Linked DNA regions of Homo sapiens. The protein of the gene in region 1 purifies or fractionates together with the protein of each later gene. This does not show direct contact. Each region holds a gene or a part of one and is shown in the gene's direction. Other genes may lie near its edges.

The links.
Region 2: the proteins of SPAG11A (region 1) and FAM118B purify together in Homo sapiens (affinity purification with mass spectrometry, with the first as the bait; one large-scale study listed by BioGRID). This does not show direct contact.

Annotation. Positions count from the first base shown.
Region 1 is NC_000008.11:7,846,372-7,850,863, forward strand, and holds the start of SPAG11A (sperm-associated antigen 11A isoform 3 precursor), read left to right. Parts: upstream 1-1,636; 5' UTR 1,637-1,675; coding exon 1,676-1,736; intron 1,737-2,319; coding exon 2,320-2,472; intron 2,473-3,644; coding exon of another isoform or gene 3,645-3,772; intron 3,773-4,492. UniProt on the Homo sapiens protein: Has antimicrobial activity against E.coli. Plays a role in the defense response in the male reproductive tract, contributing to sperm maturation, storage and protection.
Region 2 is NC_000011.10:126,239,121-126,242,936, forward strand, and holds part of FAM118B (protein FAM118B), read left to right. Parts: intron 1-1,671; coding exon 1,672-1,924; intron 1,925-3,816. UniProt on the Homo sapiens protein: May play a role in Cajal bodies formation.

The DNA of each region.
Region 1 (4,492 bases):
TATAGAGAAGATAAAAATATATAGAAATAAGTTACCAATATACTCCAAAATTTCCATCACTGTTATAAAAGATCCACATTCCAAGTTTAAATAATTACAAATACAACTGTAAGAAGTTGCTATTGAACTAGAGTATAAAAAATACCCAGAGTATGTAGATGAGCGAATAAATCTTCATTTAGGGTTGAGGTAGAGCAGCTGTCTACCTCCTTTCTTGACTGTCTATGTTCTTCCAACATCCAATTATCAGAATTTGATGCAGTAAGTGATTAAAGAAACTTATCATGGGCCAGTTGTCACCTATCTCCGCAGTGTTGCCCTGTGCTCTTGGAATTGGAAGACTTCCTAATTCCTTAAAGTGAAAGGATGTGAATGATGCTCCTGCTCTCCCTGACCAGCACCTCATGCTTTGCAGTGGAGAATCTGTCCTGAGACCCAAAAGATAGTGGCCTCCGCATTGTGCTGCCAGGGCAGCTGCTATGTGCAACTGTCCGCAGCTGCAAACCTTCCGCCCTTTGCTGGTGCTTCAGCGGATGCCCAGGTCTCTATTGTCATTGCTGCCTCTTTCTCCATTTGCTTCCAGCTTTCTCCAGGTAGAGAGTAAGTATTTTTATTTACACAAATGACCTAAGTTGTTTTCTCTGTCTGGATTAAAATATACATGCAAATGAGACATATGAGATAAGCACTATCTTTTCCAGACATCACTGATGTTACATTGGATGCTATGTGAATACAAAACTCTTCAACCAAAGCCTTCTTCACTTTAGTTAAGTCCAGAGCAGACTGTCTGGGTTACATGCATACCTGAGCTAATGCAGCCAAGTAAGAAACACACACTTGGTTAAAATGCTTAAAAAGATGAAGGAGAAGGGAAGACAAGTCCTCTGCTTGGATATTACTAGAGGAGAAAACCCAGACTCAAACACAGATTTTTTTTTTCTTTTTTAAAAGAATTGAATTGGACCCAGTGACATCAACAGGAGGTGTCTGGGGGTAAAGAGAATGGAAAGGGGAGAGAAAAATCAAGACAACTCAAATAAGTTAAAATAGAAAGGAGGGGGGTCCAAAGTGAGGAAGGAGAAGTGGAGGGGACCAAGAAACAGGGAGAGAGACTCAGAGAGGAGAAGAAAAAGAAAAGAACATTTTGAGCAGCCTTGGAACTCTCTGTATAACTTCAGGAAGGGATAGTTTGTAAAACCAGGTCCTACCTGTTATGTTGTGTGTCTTATGCATGATTTTTTAACACTAAAATAAAAACGCTCAGCCAACAGGATAGAATCGACATGGCAGTTTATTTATGTCCCTGTTCTCATGAACATTAGGGGGCTTTTGAGAAGCGTTTGAGGACATTGGCAACTTTATGATAGTTATGTTTGTTCTGCCCCTCCATGCCTTTCATCTTTCTGTTTCTCTCTGTTCTTCCTTATTCACCAAACCCACCCAAGGCATTCAGGCGTATTATTTACTTCCTGAAATATGTGTCTCAAGTGTTTGTTCCACCAGCAGTGGGATAGTAGCGTGTCCACATTGTCCTTTGAGAATGAGAAGTCATCCTGGAGCACAGCTCTTCCCACGCTCCGGGCCCACACACCCAGCCTCACTCCATCAAAGGAGCCCCGCTGCCTGCCCACCCACCCTGGGTGCTTTCTGGCTTGCAGTGCTCTTGGCAGACATGAGGCAACGATTGCTCCCGTCCGTCACCAGCCTTCTCCTTGTGGCCCTGCTGTTTCCAGGTAAAATGGAAAGGTGACCCGGGTCTGGGTGCCAGAATCTCTCTGCAATGGTCATCTGAGGTATGGGAGTCCAGGCTGGACAGGGAGAGATGAAGTCCTTGGGGCATGTATTCCTGGTGGAGCTTTGGGTACGAGTCTCTGAACTGGGTTCATAAATGGCACTCTGAATTGGCTGATGGCACTTGCTTCCCAGGGAAGAGTGTCCCTCCCCGACTCCATTTTCTTATCCTTTTAACATTCCCCTTTCCCTTACAGAGAAGAACATTACATTTTAGGGAATCTTAACAACTGCATTAGTGACACTTGAAATAAATTCTCTGGCTGTGCTGGCTTTGAGGAGGTGCTCAGACTCACCATTCATGGCATACATTTCTTACACTTCATTCACCTTCTCTCTCTACACATAGGTGCATACAACGCATGTGCACAAATGTGCACACACACGGAACACTAGCACCCCTCCCAACTCCCCCACCCAATCACCCATGCTCACTCACCTGGTAGAGTGTAGGTGCCTCATGCTGACGGGTCTGCCAGGCGGAGGCCTCAGAGCATCCGCAGACGTGTGTTTCCACTTGCACAGGATCGTCTCAAGCCAGACATGTGAACCACTCAGCCACTGAGGCTCTCGGAGAACTCAGGGAAAGAGCCCCTGGGCAAGGCACAAACGGGTTTCAGCTGCTACGCCACGCAGTGAAACGGGACCTCTTACCACCGCGCACCCCACCTTACCAAGGTGAGTCAGGGACCAACACGTGCAACAAGTGCATCCACTGGGGAGACGTAGAGGGAACAAATAGACGGGAAGATGTCTGTGCTGGTCGGGGTGGGTGAGCAGTCATTGTTTGGGGAAGACATGGTGCGGGTGCATTGGGCTGCCCTGCCTGTCAGGGAGACCACGGGGTCTCACAGCTTCCCCTGGGGCTGGATCATTGAGGGCCTTGTGGAACGTGGGAGTATTGAGGGGCCAAAAGGCAATTTATCTGAAGCCACACCAGTAATTGCTGGCTTCCTCCAAGAACAGGTGCCAGAGGAGACACTGGTGGAAACATGGCCTCCTGCCAGGTTGCAGCCCCATGCCCTTAGCTTTGGAGGTCGTTCCCGTTCAAGGAATTTACTGAATACCTACCTACTAAGTTTCAGGTGTCCATTGAGGTCTGGGAAATGCTTCCTGAGGATGGGGGCAGAGAATAGACTGTATTGTCAGTCTACTCAGGCAAGGAGGTAGCAGGACATGGCAAGGGACAATTGAGCCCACAGCCACTCTTCTGGACTCTTCCAGAAGGGCCAGGCTTCTGGTCAGCCCCCAAACCCCTGGGCAGGACCAGCTTCAAATCCAAAAGGGCCTGGAAGAGCCTGTAGTTTCCAAGATGCTTCTTTAATGCCAAGCTGATTGCTGACCCTAAGACAGGGAGAACTAGGTTAGCAGATCAGTGGGCAAGAGCAAGAAAGACAGGAGGGTGTTGGCAAATTGCTGTGACATCCAGCAAATAAAGTCCTGCTGAATTTGATGCCTGCAGCATCCTACCCAACCTCCCATCCCTTTCTAATTGGCCCACAGTTCCAAAGGACTCATTCATCTGGATCTCCTCCCAAGGGAAGGGAAAAAGAAAACTCAATTATTACACAACAAATATAAACAGGTGCAATAGTAGGCGTGTGTTATTTAGTCTAACAGTATTCCTGTGAGACAGGATTATTCCTTCCTTTGGTTAAAGGAGATTTAGTGGGGCAGAGCTATATATCTGGAGTTGATGTTTTAGTTTGGAACTTGAAGCTATTAACTATGGAAAGCTGTTTCATATCCATGCCACCCCCACCCTGTCCCTCACGGCTCAAATGACCACTGTTTGATTCTGGAGATGGTCTTAAGAAGCTAATGTTGGATTTTTTCTTTTTTTAATGCAGAACCTGCATCAGATTTAAAAGTTGTTGACTGCAGGAGAAGTGAAGGCTTCTGCCAAGAATACTGTAATTATATGGAAACACAAGTAGGCTACTGCTCTAAAAAGAAAGACGCCTGCTGTTTACATTAAAACTGATGTTGCTGATATAGAAACAAAGCTCTGCCACTTACCTGTTCTCCGGGGCCACGTTGTCCAATCAGGTGCAGGTTTTTTGCGGAAGTGTCTGAGCAGCAGGGAGCGGAGATATTGCCACTTGTGCCAGACAGTTCAAATATTTTATTGTGGCAAGATAAATGACAAAAATGCTACCTGTGATCTTACAGAAGATGACTTAGCTTGACATGAACAGAATTTTCAAAATCACACAATTTGTGCTAGTAAATGTGGATATCATAAACTTTTATTAGAAAGAATTAAAATAATTTGTTCTTTTATTTAAAAACTATTTTTTGAATACCTACTTCTATTCTAGGTACTGTGCAATGGAGTCCATTCTATTCTAAGTACTGTGAAATGTAGTTGAGGTGTCAGGTGTGTGGTCAAACCCATTCTCCATCAGCCCCATCATCTCCTACCTGCAGGCCAGTTCGAAGCCCTGTTCTCTAGCAGCAGCTGAGAGAGTGTGCAGGCAAATGCCTTCTGGGGAGATACTGAGAGCTGGGAGTTACTGCCTGTTCTCTTTGTGCTAAACCTGGAAGAATACCCTCTGGAAGTCCTCTTGTGCCCCTTTAAAACTACCCATTTGTTCTCTGTGGCCTTAGAAGACACAAAATGCAGAGACCCATTTATAACCCGATGGTGCTGTGCAATTCCAGGCTTTTGGTGTCCTGAACAAAGAACTGGATGTGA
Region 2 (3,816 bases), on another chromosome or scaffold:
GTGCCTAATTTTCTTTTTCGTTCTTTCTTTGTTTGGCAGAGATGGGGTCTCACTAAGTTGCCTAGGCTTGTCTCAAACTCCTGGGCTCAAGCTCAGCCTCCTAAAGTGCTGAGATTACAGGCATGAACCACTGCACTTAGCCAAATTGGAAGTCTTAATTAGGAAGAATTATAGTTCAAATCTGTATGTTATATAAAAAAATACAGTACAACAGTATAAAATGAAAAGTAAAAAGTCCTTATTCTCTGCTATCCCCATTTAACCACTATTTATACATCTTGTGAATCCTAGAAATTTTCTATGTGTGTGTATATTTGTTTATGTGGATTTGTGTATGCTTCACTATCTTGATTGCTCTGAACTGAAACTCATTTTTCATCATTTGCTTCTAACATCTATTATTAATGTCTTTTCTAGTAGACTGATCTTTCAAGATCAGGGACTCCATTTTGTTCATGGATACATGACTCCCGTAGTGTCTGGTACATACAGGTTTTCCTTTCCTGCCTCAGCCTCCCTAGTAGCTGGGACTACAGGTGTGCGCCACCAGACCCAGCTAATTTTTGTATTTTTAGTAGACACAGAGTTTCACCATGTTGGCCAGGCTGGTCTTGAACTCCTGACCTCAAGTAATCAGCCCACCTTGGCCCCCCAAAGTGCTGGGATTACAGGCGTGAGCCACTGCTCCTGGCCTCGGTTTTTCATATTTGTTGAATGACTGAATGCAGAAGCTCGGGTTAGGGAAAGCAGTTTTAGAGGCTGTGTCCCCAAAACCAGGTTTCCCAAGGCTTGAAAGTGCTATTCCTTTCTTGAGTTATGCCAAAATGCTGATCCTCTCCATTTTATTATTTAGACAAAAAGGTTGGGGAGAAGCCATTTTCAGGGGAGGGGAACATGCCATCAGCAAAAATTAATGTGAAGGAACATATTTCAAGCAGGGATAGTCTCCAGAATGAAAGAGAGGGGAACAAAAACAAAAATTAGCACCCATGCTGTCTCACATATGGGCCTCAGAACAGAGAAGTCTGTCTCTGCTTATCATGGTAAGAAAGGAATGTTTTTCACTTTTTGTCATGTCCTTTGATTAGTTAATGTCTTTATTTAGGTATGTAGGGCCCCTGTGTTTTCAGAATTCTATTGGCCACTTTTTTTTTCTTTTTTTTTTTTGCCTGAGGTTAATGTTTACAAAATTCAGAATTAAATTTTGTATTGCCTTTCCCCTAGTGTTTTACATTTCTCAATAATAGGAACTTAATTTGTCCTGGGGTTCTTTTCTCTTTTTCTAGAGTACAAATCAAACGTCTTCTTTTGAAATTTAATACTGGTTTAAAATATAATTTAGTTGGCAGAAGTCAGCTGAGCTATAGTCTATTTGGATCTTTTCCTAATATTAGTGGAATTTCTTAGGTTGAGAGGACTAGGAAGGGAAAACTGATTTTAAGATTGGTTTTGGGATTCCTGAAATAGGTTTATGACTTGTTTTTCAGCAAGCACTGACACAATATTCTGGTTGTTTTCTTTAAACTGCTTTGGAAAGGTGTCAAAAACTGCTGTTCATCTTCTTTGCAACTATAAAAGTTAGCTAAAAACTGTAACCTGAGTCAGACAGTCTTTCTGTGTGCCTCATATCTATTGGATATTCCAATCCTCTCATTTGTTTTGCTTTTATAGGAAGCTGCTTCCAAGCTTAAAAACTAAGAAGCCTCGAGAACTTGTGCTAGTGATTGGAACAGGCATTAGTGCTGCAGTTGCGCCCCAAGTTCCAGCCCTCAAATCCTGGAAGGGGTTAATTCAGGCCTTACTGGATGCTGCCATTGATTTTGATCTTTTAGAAGATGAGGAGAGCAAAAAGTTTCAGAAATGTCTCCATGAAGACAAGAACCTGGTCCATGTTGCCCATGACCTTATCCAGAAACTCTCTCCTGTGAGTACCCTAGTATGTGCCACAGTATTTGGAATTTCCTAAAATTTAACTATCACAACTAGCATGATTTGGCTGTCAAAACTAGCATGCCAAATGTAACAGGGATATTCATTTACAGCTTGTAGGTTTCCATAACATTTGACTCTTCTGCGCAATGTCTGTTTATGGACCCTACTCAGGACAGTTGTCTTAACCCCATTTCACTGTGTGTCTATGAGAGAGAAATGATGTTGAGGACTTTATATGTACAAATTACCACTGTGTTTTGAATTTATTTTTTTCCTGCATCACTACTATAAAAGCTGTGTTCTGTGGCATCCATGCCTTGTATGGAATCCCACAAAGATTGGAGATAATTTTATCATTTTATACATGAAACAAAACCAGTTTTTAGTGTTCTTTTTAGAGGTAATAAGTCAAAATATTTAGAAGGAATTGCACCTTATTTTACCAAACTGAGTTGGATAAAAGGACTCCCTGTCTTGCTTTGTCTGAAAATTTATTTATTTATTTATTTATTTTTTGATGGAATCTTCTTCTTGTCACCCAGGCTGAAGTTCAGTGGTTCGATCTCGCCTCATGGCAGCCTCCGCCTCCTGGGTTCAAGCGATTCTCCTGTCTCAGCCTCCTGAGTAGGTGGGATTACAGGCATGTGCCACCATGCCCAGCTAATTTTTGTATTTTTAGTAGAGACAGGGTTTTGCCATGTTGGTCAAGCTGGTCTCGAACTTCTGACCTCAAGTGATCTGCCCACCTCAGCCTCACAAAGTGCTGGGATTATAGGCATGAGCCACTGCACCCAGCCTGTTTTAAAATCTTAAAAATCAGGCTTCTAGGGCCAGGCGTGGTGGGCACCTGTAATCCCAGCTGCTCAGGAGGCTGAGGCAGGAGAATGGCTTGAACCCGGGAGGTGGAGGTTGCACTGAGTTGCGGTCGCGCCACTGCACTCCAGCCTGGGCGACAGAGGAAGACTCCGTCTCAAAAAAAAAAAAAAAAAAAGGAATTAATGGGGTTTTAAAGAGTTCATGGAATCTCCATACACTTTATAAAAATTAAAAATGGATCAAAGACCTAAATATGATACCTAAAACTGTAAAACTCTTAGAAGAAAATACAGATTTAAAATTTCATGACTGGATCTGGCAGTGGTTTTTTAGACATGACACCAAAAATGCAAAAAACTAAAGTAAAAAAAAATATAGATAAACTGGACTTCTCCAAAGTTAAAAACTGTTAGGCTGAAAGGACACTGTCAAGAAAGTGAGCCGGGGATGGTGGCTCATGCCTATAATCCCAGAACTTTGGGAGGCCAAGGCAGGAGAACTGCTTGAGGGCATGAGTTCAAGACCAGCCTGGACAACATAGTGAGACCCTGTCTCTACCAAAAGAAAAAAAAAAGTGAAAAGACAGCTTCCAGAATGAGAAAATGTTAGCAAATCACATATCTCATAGGCGTATAATATCCAGAATCTATAAAGAACTACTGTAACTTAATAAAGGCTAATAATTCAATTTTAAAATAACGATGTAGTTGAATAGACATTTCTCCAAAGAAGATACACAAACGGCCAATAAGTGCATACGAAAAGATGTTCAGCGTCATTAGTCATTAGGAAAATACAAATCAAAACCACAACAAGGTGCCATTTCACACCCGCTGGCATGACTAGAATCAAGAAGACAATAATAAGTGTTATTAAGGATGTGGAGAAATTGGAACCTTTGTGGGAATGTAAAGTGATGCAGTTGCTTTGGAAAACAGATTGGCAGTTCCTCAAAAAGTTGAACAGTGATTCTATGAACCAGCAACTGCACTCATAAGTATATACCTAAGCGAATGGAAAGCATATTCATGCAGCAACTGTACACTCATGTTCATAGCAACGTTATTC